Linked DNA regions of Homo sapiens: region 2 is linked to region 1. Evidence: fine-mapped expression QTL. A gene starts in region 1. The other region holds a variant in brackets. All regions are shown on one strand. Distances are from middle to middle.

Region 1 (5,372 bases):
TCAACATCCATTAAAAAAAAAAATACTTAGTCCATTTGAGCTGCTATAACAAAATACCTTAGACTGGGTAATTTATAACTAATAGAAATTTATTGCTCACAGCTCTAGAGCTGGGAAGTAGAAGATCAAGGCCCCAGCAGGGGCCCATTCCTCATAGATGATGCGTCCTCTATGTTGCTGCATCCTCCCATGATGAAAGGGCAAAAGAGGTGAACAACTCTCTCACACCTCTTTTATAAGGCCACTAACCCCATTCAAGAGGGCTCCACCTCATGACTTAACCATCTCCCAAAGGCTCACCTTGTAATACTGTGACACTGGTGATTAAGTTTTAACATATGAATTTGGGGGTCAGATCACAGCAAATACTTTTGATTTATATTTATTTTAATTTTGAGAGGGTTAGAAGGGGTAATAGGTGGAGTTTTCTAAAGAAAAAGCCATTGCTTGAGTGACTCTAAGGGCAGACACCAACAAGCCATCCTCTAATTAGACTAAAAATATGCAACAGCAACAGACAACCCTCAAATCTCTGTGACTTAACACACCAATAATTTACTTTGTGTTCACATTGCATGTCCACTACAGATCAAGAGGGTCTGCTCCACATGGTCACCTAAGCTTACAGAGGCTCCACCAACTAGAATGCAGTCTCCGTGGTAGTTATAGGAGGGCAAGAGAGTGGAGAATTACAGATTGGCTTTTCATTGTCTCAGCCTAGAAGTAACCTGCATAGCTTCCCCTTACATTTCATTGGTCAGACAGAACCACATGGCCCTGCCTACCTACAAATATTGTATCTGTGAAGCCTGATTATCTCTGCTATAGGTTTTTTACTCTGTGCTCTCACTGTGCCAATAGTGAAATTGTGGCTGTTTCTTGTGAATCTACTCCTATCCCTGGACTCTAAAGAGTGGGGGCCTCATATTACAAATTATGTAACTTTGGTGCCTAGCACAAGACTGGTGCCCAGTGATTGTGGAGTGATTGAACAATCGGACAAAGTAAAGGTGAACCTAAAGAAAGGTGGAGGCAGTGCCTGGGAGGATCAGTTTAGGAGCTTCCCTATCTGAAAAATGAAGCAGGGAAGGCCGAGAAAACAATGCTATCAGTTTTAAAAATGAAACCAAACCTCACTGAATAGAGTGGACAGTCTGTGTGTAACACAACTCATTGTCGGGGTGGGTTTCCATCAACAACAAAACAGACTGCATATGTAGAAGAAAGGGAAAATGGGACCCCCAGGGGCACTACGTGGCTTTGGAAAAAAAATCTGATCTTAGAGCAGCCTCAAGAATAAACTAGGCACAGAACAGTCTGACTTCCCTCTCATAAGTTTTATTTATTTATTTATTTATTTTTTTTTGAGACGGAGTCTCCCTCTGTCGCCCAGGCTGCAGTGCAGTGGCGCGATCTCCGCTCACTGCAAGCTCCGCCTCCCGGGTTCATGCCATTCTCCTGCCTCAGCCTCCCGAGTAGCTGGGACTACAGGCGCCCGCCACCATGCCCGGCTAATTTTTTGCATTTTTAGTAGAGACGGGGTTTCACTGTGTTAGCCAGGATGGTCTTGATCTCCTGACCTCGTGATGCGCCTGCCTTGGCCTCCCAAAGTGCTGGGATTACAGGTGTGAGCCATCGCTTTCGGCCCCCTCTCATAAGTTTTTGGAGCTTAAGAAGGACTAAGGTGCAATCCCTGGGTCACCATGGAAAAACCTTGACTTATCCAGCTGTTTTTTTTTTCTCTTGTAGAAGAAAAAAAGGAATTAACCCTACATAATTACTTCCTATTTCAAGTCAGTTTTATTGACCTCGGTTTGCAAACTAAGTGGGCTCATCCGGATTCTAAAGATATTTAAGGATACTTTCAGTTATAAGTAGGATGACTATCCATCCAGGTTTGAACCTGCTGTTCATGGTTAATTTATTAATAGCATGTCTCACAGTTCATTCTCAGAAATGCTTGGATATGGCCGATAAATTGAAACGTCATCCTAGTTAAAAGTAACGTTTTTAACTGGCTGGAGAAAGGTGACTTGGGGTTCTAGGAAGGGACAGAGGAACAAACATTCTGTTGGCTCAGCACGCCCAGCCTGTGTTGGGCTGGGCACCTTAGAGGACCTGTTTCAGGACTGCGTGACTGGCGTTTTGCTGGGAGTAGCCCAGGTGTTTTAACCACTTCCTGAAGAACAAGGTTCGGTAAAAAGAGGCTGGGGCGTAGGCGTGGGTTCCTGTCCCTGCCATATGCTGTCTTCCTGATCTTCGGAAGTCACTTCAAGCACCTGATCATCAGTTTCCTTATCTGTAAAACTGGAGTAGTAATGTTTCCCTCCAAACGCCGTCGTATTTAATTCATTTAACAGCAGCCACTATTATTCCATTATACAGACGAATAAATAGACGTTATGAGAGGGCAAAGTGCGCTGATCAGGGCTCATAATAATTCTAACAGCTACTGTTTAGGAACCAAGTACTCAAGCAGCCTGTGCACAATCTCTAATTTCTAGAAGAGAAGACGGATACTTGGAAAGAGAACTTGAACAATGTCATGGAACTCATAAATGGCTTGAGAAAGGCTGATCCTAGGAAATCTGCTTCAGAACCCGCGCTCTCACTGCATAAGGCGTATTTCAAGGGAGGAACGGGCAGGCATCTAGCACCACTCTTCGGACTCCCCATCCAGTGCTCTTTTCCTCTTTTCGTTACACTGCACTGCTGGTCGGAAACCCATCGTGGAAGTGGATCAAACACAACAAAGGGCAGGGGGCGTTGGAAAACCGGGCGAAGTCGCGCAGACCGAGACGACCCACCGGCCCCAGCAAATCACCAGGGGCCGAAATCCAGTGTCCTCCTCCCTTCAGCCCAGAAGCCAGGTCACCTTTTAGACTTGCTCTCTTGGCGGGGAGGAAGCGTGGAGCCCCCTGGTCCGGCTAAGAGCTTACGTAAGGCCCGCGGGCGGCTGCGCCCCGGTCTCCCATGGGTGTGCGCAGAGCCCCCGGGCCGGAGCAGGCCTTCCCCTGTCCGCTCCCCCAGTCTCTCGGCCCAGGACCACGGGGGAGTTCAGGACCACCGGCCCCACGCCGGCAGCGTCCGCGTTGGGCGGCGGCGTCCCCCGCAGCCACCCAGCTTCCCGGGGGAGGAGCAGCGCATCGCGCAAGCATCCGGGAGCGGCGGAGGGGGCGGGAGGAAGGGCGAGAGGAGGAAGCGGGATTTAAACGAAAGGCGGTGACGCCACACAAAAGATTTCTATAGGCTCCAGGGAGGTTACGGCCGAGGCGGCGGCGGCGGCGAGCCCGGGGGCGAGGCGCGGACGGGAACAGGAAAAGCCTCCGGCAGCCCCTGCGGGCGGCGGCGCAGCCACGGCCGCGCTCCGAGGTGAAGCCGCGCGCGGAGAGGAAGCGGGTGTTTTCCCCTCTGCCTTTCGGCCCCCGCCCTTCCTTTCAGTTTCTGCCCGCTCGCTCGGAAGTTGGCGGTTGACAAAAATGGCAGGAGCCGGGGCCCGGGCCGGTTGCCGCAGCGCCGCGGGGACCTTCTGAGTTGGCCCGGTGGCAGGGAGACTCGTGCAGGGGCGTCCGATGCGCGGGGCCCGGGGCCTCGGGAGAGCTCAGCTGCTGCGGGCCCCAGACGAGGCGACAGGGATGGACTTGCGTAGACAGCCAGCGCCGGGCCGCCGGGCGCGCGGTCTGGGAGGGCGTGCCGCCGCGGCGCCGGGCCGCGCTCTGTGAACCGGCGAGGCGGGAAGGGGCCGCCGTGGTGCTCGGCACGCCCGGGCGTGTGGCGGGCGGGCGAGAGCTTGAGCGCGATCCGGGCGGCCGCTGTGCGCAATCAGTGCAGGCTCCCGCCCGACTCTGACTCGGCGCGGCCGCGACAGTGCCGGCCACACCCTCTGCCCCGCTGCCGCCGGCGCCGCTTCCCAAGAGCTGGAGGCAGGAGATGCGCCCGGGGCGGCCGCGCGTCCCAGAGAGCCAGCCCCGGCCGCCGTCGCGGGGAAGTGCCGCCTGGTGGGGTCACGGCGCCTGAAGCCCACGTGCGCCGCCGAGCCCGAGGTGGCCTCGAGCGCGGCGGCTGACAGCACAGCCCGCCTGAGCTGCCTCCCGCGCTCCTCCCCGAGGAAAGGATTTTGATTTCAAAGAAAGGAAGGAAGGAAGGACAACTCCCAGCTTCCCCGTCCCGCCCTCCCCGCTCCGAGGGCCGCGCCAGGCCATGCCCAAGAAGGCGGCGGCGGCGGCGAACCAGCAGAAGGGACTTTCCTGGCAGCCCGGCGACGAGGAGCGCGGACAGTGAGTTTGCTCTGCCCCGGTTCATGGTTCCTGCAAGCCCTCTAGGAGGCCGAAAGCTGCAGCCCCTCCCCTTGCCCCGAAGAGCCTTCCGCGTTCTCTCGCCCTCGGGCCCACCCCGCGCCGCCCGGGCTCCCGCCGCCGCAGCCCAGTGCCCTCTGCCCGCGGCGGTGGATGGCATGATGGTGCGGGGAAGGCACCGCGGCCTTGGCCAGCTGAGTCGCGACGGCCGCCGGGGCGGCGGCAGTGGCCGCGGCAGCGGCGGTGGTAGCGGGCTCCCCAGCGGCATGCCAGTGCCCCCCGGGCGCGATGGCTAGCGGCAGCGCCGGGAAGCCCACTGGCGAGGCGGCTTCTCCGGCTCCTGCGAGCGCCATCGGCGGGGCCAGCTCGCAGCCGCGGAAGAGGCTGGTATCCGTCTGCGACCACTGCAAGGGCAAGATGCAGCTGGTGGCTGACCTGCTGCTGCTGTCGAGCGAGGCGCGGCCCGTGCTCTTCGAGGGCCCCGCCTCCTCTGGTGCCGGCGCCGAGTCCTTCGAGCAGTGCCGGGACACCATCATCGCGCGCACCAAGGGGCTCTCCATCCTCACCCACGACGTGCAGAGCCAGCTCAACATGGGCCGCTTCGGGGAGGCGGGGGACAGCCTGGTGGAGCTGGGCGACCTGGTGGTGTCGCTGACCGAGTGCTCGGCCCACGCGGCCTATCTGGCCGCTGTGGCCACGCCGGGCGCCCAGCCCGCGCAGCCGGGCCTGGTGGACCGCTACCGCGTGACGCGATGCCGCCACGAGGTGGAGCAGGGTTGCGCCGTGCTGCGCGCCACGCCGCTGGCCGACATGACGCCGCAGCTGCTGCTGGAGGTGTCGCAGGGCCTGTCGCGCAACCTCAAGTTCCTGACGGACGCGTGCGCCCTGGCCAGTGACAAGTCACGGGACCGCTTTTCGCGGGAGCAGTTCAAGCTGGGCGTCAAGTGCATGAGCACCAGCGCGTCGGCGCTGCTGGCCTGCGTGCGCGAGGTGAAGGTGGCGCCCAGTGAGCTGGCGCGCAGCCGCTGTGCGCTCTTCAGCGGGCCCCTGGTGCAGGCAGTGAGCGCCCTGGTAGGC
Region 2 (5,372 bases), 170 kb after region 1:
GTTCCAGCACTCATATACCCTAGTTCCCACCTTGTTTGCTCACGTGCTCCCTCCCACGAGGAGTTGAGAGTGGTGGGCTGAGTAAACAAGTCCCTCCTACTGTGAGTCCCACTAAGAGGTCAGGGAAATATCCTGTTTTGTTATCTATATTTAATAATGCAATTATATTTATGTTATTAATAGTTTCCCATACTATGTAAAATAGTCTTTGGAAACATGATTTGTAATAACTTTATGTTATTCCATTGGATTATTTCATTGATGATGCTCCATGCTTGGAAAGGTATCCTGAGAAAGACAAGTTCATTCACTGCCTGTAGGAAAACAATTTAGTGCAATTTTTCTGAAGTGCATAATAAGAGATGTCAATTAGCCGGGTGTGGTGGAACACACCTGTAGTCCCAGCTACTCATGAGACTGAAGCAGGAGGATTGCTTGAGCCCAGGAGGCAGAGGTTGCAGTGAATGGAGACAGCACAACTGCACTCCCACCTGAGTGACAGAGTGAGACCCTGTCTGAAAAAGTAAATAAATAAAGAGATGTGAGCAAAAATTTATCAACCAAGATTTTTGTTTTAGCTTAATTTGTAATAACAAAATTGGAAATGACCTAAATGTCCAACAGTAACCAATCTGTTTAATAAATGACAGTGCATCTCCAGGCATTGCCTGTGTGTTGATATGGCTTCTTTAGCATCAAGTGGCTGGAACTTGAGACATAGAACATGGATCTGATCTAACAATTGGCAGCTTGAATGCTCTGTCTTTCACACTGTACCTATTCATTTCCTGCCGACTGCCTTGGATTATAGATAGGGCTGGCTGAGGTTTTTCTCTTAATTTTCTTGGCAACTCATGACTTCTGGCTGCAAAGACTTTTCAGATGGTCTCTTGGACATCAAACAGCTACAGACCAACATTTGGTTACATAAAGTGCAAATGAATCATGAACATGTGGATTATATTTCTATTCAAATACACAGCGATTTCAAATTATGGGAAATGGACTATGGGCTGTACAAATTAGCACGAGGTTTGGGAAGTCAATGGAAATGCTGAACAGATTCTCAGTTATGTCCATCTACTCTTCCCCAAAACATTCTTCCTTAGCACCCTAGAAATTACAGCTATTTAATTCAAGGGAACGCTGAACGCTAGTCTTTTCTGCAAGAGAGAGGGAAGGCCAAATGAATTTGCCCAAGGTTCTTAGGGTTTATTTATTTTGTCCCAAAGCCAGCAAAGACTGAACAACATGCAAAATATATCCTCCCTTCCCCTTGGCTTCCGTGTTGGAACTTTCTTAATTTTATCTCTCTTCAGTCTCTTCCCTGTCTTGGTGTTGCATCTCTGTTGGATGTCTTTTCCATTGCTTGTTTCTTCAATGTTGAAATTTTATAAGGCTTCATGCATAGCCCATTTTTTTTGGTATTGTTGTTATTTTTGTTTTCTTCTGTCTCTGCTGCTTGAATCAGAACTTAGTCCATTTTTCTTACTGTGCTTTCTATATTGTTTTAAATCAGAACCTTTGACTTCAACTACTTTCTATACACCAGTGATGTTCATATTTCTATCCCCATCCCAGATCTCTCTCCTGACCTCCAGTTCCTGCATCCATATGCCCATCAGACATCTCTACTCTCTGTAGCCCACAGATGCTCCAAACCATATGTCCAAACTGAGCTCATCATCTTTCTCATCATTCCAGTTTTTTTCCCTGCATTCATTATTTTAGTAACTAGAAGTATCAGTCACCAATGCCATTATTTAATTAGTTTAGGCAATTTTGAGTCTTCACTCAATGCCTGACACTGTATGCCAGACACTGAGTTAGATCAGGGAACACAAAGATGAATAAGAGCTAGTATTTGGCCTCAATGTGTTCACAACCCAGTGGAGAAGATGGACATGTCAACAAATAATTACAGAGAAAGCCCAGCATTAGAAATATGCAGAGAATCTTAGTAGCGTGGGAAAGGGGCATGAATTATATCAGTGGTGGGGAGCATTCAAAGGAGAATTTTAGAAGGGTGATCCCTGAGCTGGCAATCAAAGGGTGAGAAAGGTAAAGGAAGAGAGGGGACAGATGCACAAAAGCATGGAGGTGACAGACAGCAGTGAAAGCAGACAATTAGCACAATTTCGGCTTTGCTGGAGCCTGGCATTTGAAGCAAGTAGACAGGGCTTAGTTATATAAAGGCTTACATGCCTTATTCAGAAGGTTTGGGATTTTTTTCAGATAGTTTATATAGTCTCTCAGTCGAGTGTTCAATGGCAAATATAAAGGTCAGACTTCTTCCCCTCCTCCTCTTCCTCTTCCTTCTTCTTCTTTCTTGAGAGAGGGTCTCCCTATGTTGCCCAGGCTGGTCTTGAATTCCTGGTCTCAAGCAATCTTCCTACCCCAGTCTCCTCTCTTAAAGTGTTGGGATGCAGGTGTGAGCCACTGTGCCTGGCCAAAAGGTCAGATTTCTATGGTTATGAGAGAGGATGAATTTGAGAGAGTAAGAATGGATAAAGGTAGAGAAATTAGGAGACTCTTGGGTTATTCTGGCTGAATAGTATGAAAGCCTAAGCCAGGAAGTGGCAGAGAAGTCAGTGGGTCTGAGAGATGTTTAGAATATATAACTGTGAGGGGCCAGGAACAGTGGCTCACGTCTAATCCCAGCACTTTGGGAAGTTGAGGTGGGCAGATTGCTTGAGGCCAGGAGTTCAAGACCAGCCTGGCCAACATGGCAAAACCACATCTCTACTAAAAATACAAGAAAAATTAACCAATCATGGTGGTGTGCACCTGTAATCCCAGCTACTACTGAGGCTGAGGCACCAGAATCGCTTGAACCCAGGAGGCAAAGGTTGCAGTGAGTCGAGCTCGAGCCCCTGCACTCCAGCCTGAGCAACAGCACAAGACTCTGTCTCAAATAATAATAAAAAAAGAAACAAAGAAAATATAACTGTCAGGAATTGAGCTGAAAGTTGAGATAAGGAAAAAAAAAAGGAGTCAGGGATAGATTGTAGCTATCTGGGTTGGGTAATGTGGAATATAGTAATGGTGCTAGCAGAGAAAACACAAGG[C/G]GCTCAGAAATATTCTTGATATATTAGACTGTGGTTCCTTGAACTCATCCTCCTATTTCCTGTCCTTGTACCATGGTGCATACTGGTGCCTGTGACTCAAACATGCCCATCACCCTTTTCCAGCTGGCCATCTCACCCGAGGTTCAGAGTCAATTCATTCGTCTATCCAGCATTTATCTGACCTAACTCAGCAGGGTCTGTGCCTTCTTCTGTGCTCCCACATCTCCCAGGGCTAAGCTTTATCCCCCAAATCACCCCACTGTAATGTACTTGCCTCTGTCCCCTCTGTCAGTCTCCAATAGAGAGGTTTTGAGGACAGAAGCCCAGCAGCCATTCAGTTGCTCTTTGCTGACTACTGAATGCATCTTGGGAAGAAATGAAGTTTGTTCTTTTTAGTTACAGAATTGAAATCTAATGCATCAGAGAAATGAGGACAACATAGATGGCATCTGAGCTTTGATTTTTCTTTCTTTCTTCTTATTATTTTTGGAGATGGGGCTCGCTCTGTCACCCAGGCTGGATTGCAGTGGCACAATCACAGCTCACCACAGCCTCGACCTCCTGGGCTCAAGTAATCCTCCCACTTCAGCCTCCAGAGTAGCTGGGATTACTGGTGCATGCCAACATGACCAATTAATTTTTTTTTCAGAGATGGGGGTCTCACTATGTTGCCCAGGCTGGTCTTGAACTCCTGGACTCAAATAATCTGGCCACCTTGGCCTCCTGAGCTTTGATTTTGTGACAGTTGTAACCAGTATGATCTCAGGGAAAGAGGAAAGATACAGGCAACATGTTCTATGACCATCTAACAATGTGATTTGGGGCTATAACAACTTCTCTGGCTATTAGGTGAGTGGGAAGTTTCACTTGTGTGAGTGAATGGCCAATACCCTGGAAGCAAAGCATCTGGGCTCAGGCCTTTCAGGGACCAGGGTGGGAGGAGGATGGCTGATGGAAAGCAGTAGCACTGGTGAAAACAGTAAGGTGACAACAGGAGGCTCCAAGGAGGAGAGCTCAGTCACAGGGCTCTAGGTGGGCCTTTCCATTGATTCCTTAACAGTGCAGGATGGGTGTCAGCTGCAAATGAGATTCTTGTAAAGGGCAAGGACAGGAACAGGCTAAGGTTTCAGGGGCAGAGGAAGAAGGAGCAGCAGAGGGAGGAGGAAAGATGAAAAAATGCCTCTAGAGAAACAGTGGAGCTGTTGGAGCAGAAATGGTGGAGGCACAGAGAGAGCAACCTGAGTAGGAATTCCTAGCCTGCAGTGGGGCTGGGTCCACTGTGTATGGTGCAGACATGGAGACAGCAACCCAAGTGAGCTCCAAGCCTACAGTGGGCCTGTGTCCACTGTGTCCATAGCAGATGGTGCAGGCATGGAGACAGCAACCCAAGTGAGTTCTAAGCCAACAGTGGGGCTGTGTCCACTGCAGATGTTGCAGGCATGGAGCCAGCAGCCCAGATAAGCTCCAAGCCTACAGTGGGGTTGTGTCTACTGCAGATGGGGTAGGCATAGAGTCAGTAACCCAAGTGAGCTCCAAGCTTAGAGTGGGGCTGATCTGGGGGAGCCTCCAGAACTTGACAGCCTCACTACTGATTTATTTTGGCTCTGTGGTCGATGTAAAGGAAGAGAAAAGTGTGAGATGACCTGGAAGGAGTTGAGAAGGCATCCTGGGGGGACTGGAAATACCTTTGAGGCTAAGCCTAATGTCATCCCCTCTGTGAGGTCTTGTCTGTGTTTTCATTGTTGGAGTTCTTCTTTCCCTCGAGCTCACTCCTGGCCTTTAAGTCATCCAGTCTACCCCCACTCTGTGTTCTTAGTTCTGCAGTCACCACTTTTGGACATAGGGCTGAGATCTGATCTTTGCAACTTGACTCTGGGGCCTTCCTTGAGAACAGAGCTCTGGCCTTTTGTGCTAACTCTCTGTACTTTAAACTGCCTCAGTGAGTAGATCTGGCCTTGGGTGGACCATTGGCCTCTTTCTGGTTGACATCCATCCAAACACATTCAGTTTCCCTTGGAGAGGTGGAATTCAGACAACAATCCTTTGTCCCCCCTGGCTTAGCAATCTGTGGCAGCATGAGCTGGAATACTCCGCATTCCAGCCAAGCCTCTGCCCCCTCCAGGTTTTCCTAGCTAGAACAACTCAATAATTTCTGCAAGACAAAACTGACTTAAGGTAGGAAGAGCAGAACTTACTTACCATCTTCCAAATGATGTACTTATTACTTGCTTATCTCCACCTCAAGGGGGAGCAAAGATATGATGCCCCAGGGATTAACCCAGGACTTTCATGTTAGTTCTGGTT

Alleles and levels. Positions count from the first base shown, and alleles are read on the strand shown. Sizes are in standard deviations (SD) of each study's normalised expression.
As copies of G replace C in region 2, the expression in cerebellar hemisphere of the gene that starts at base 3,235 in region 1 goes up (moderate effect, 0.45 SD a copy in GTEx).

The links. PIP is the estimated chance that this variant, and not a neighbour inherited with it, causes the effect.
Region 2: its variant is fine-mapped to the expression of TLNRD1 in cerebellar hemisphere (GTEx, PIP above 0.99).

Annotation. Positions count from the first base shown.
Region 1 is chr15:80,997,689-81,003,060 of GRCh38, forward strand. TLNRD1 (talin rod domain containing 1) reads left to right here and starts at 3,235. Exons shown (of 1, transcript NM_022566.3): 1 at 3,235-5,372. The coding sequence starts at 4,584. It overlaps LOC128071545, which reads left to right and starts at 4,454. Exons shown (of 1, transcript NM_001414893.1): 1 at 4,454-4,591. The coding sequence starts at 4,454. The coding sequence ends at 4,591. RefSeq lists enhancers at 1-369, 5,026-5,372 and silencers at 2,863-3,552, 3,593-4,052, 4,403-4,532.
Region 2 is chr15:81,169,821-81,175,192 of GRCh38, forward strand. No RefSeq gene overlaps it. Among named protein-coding and RNA genes, the nearest start is that of IL16, 24 kb to the right of the region's middle. The variant C/G (reference allele first, on the strand shown) is at 3,069.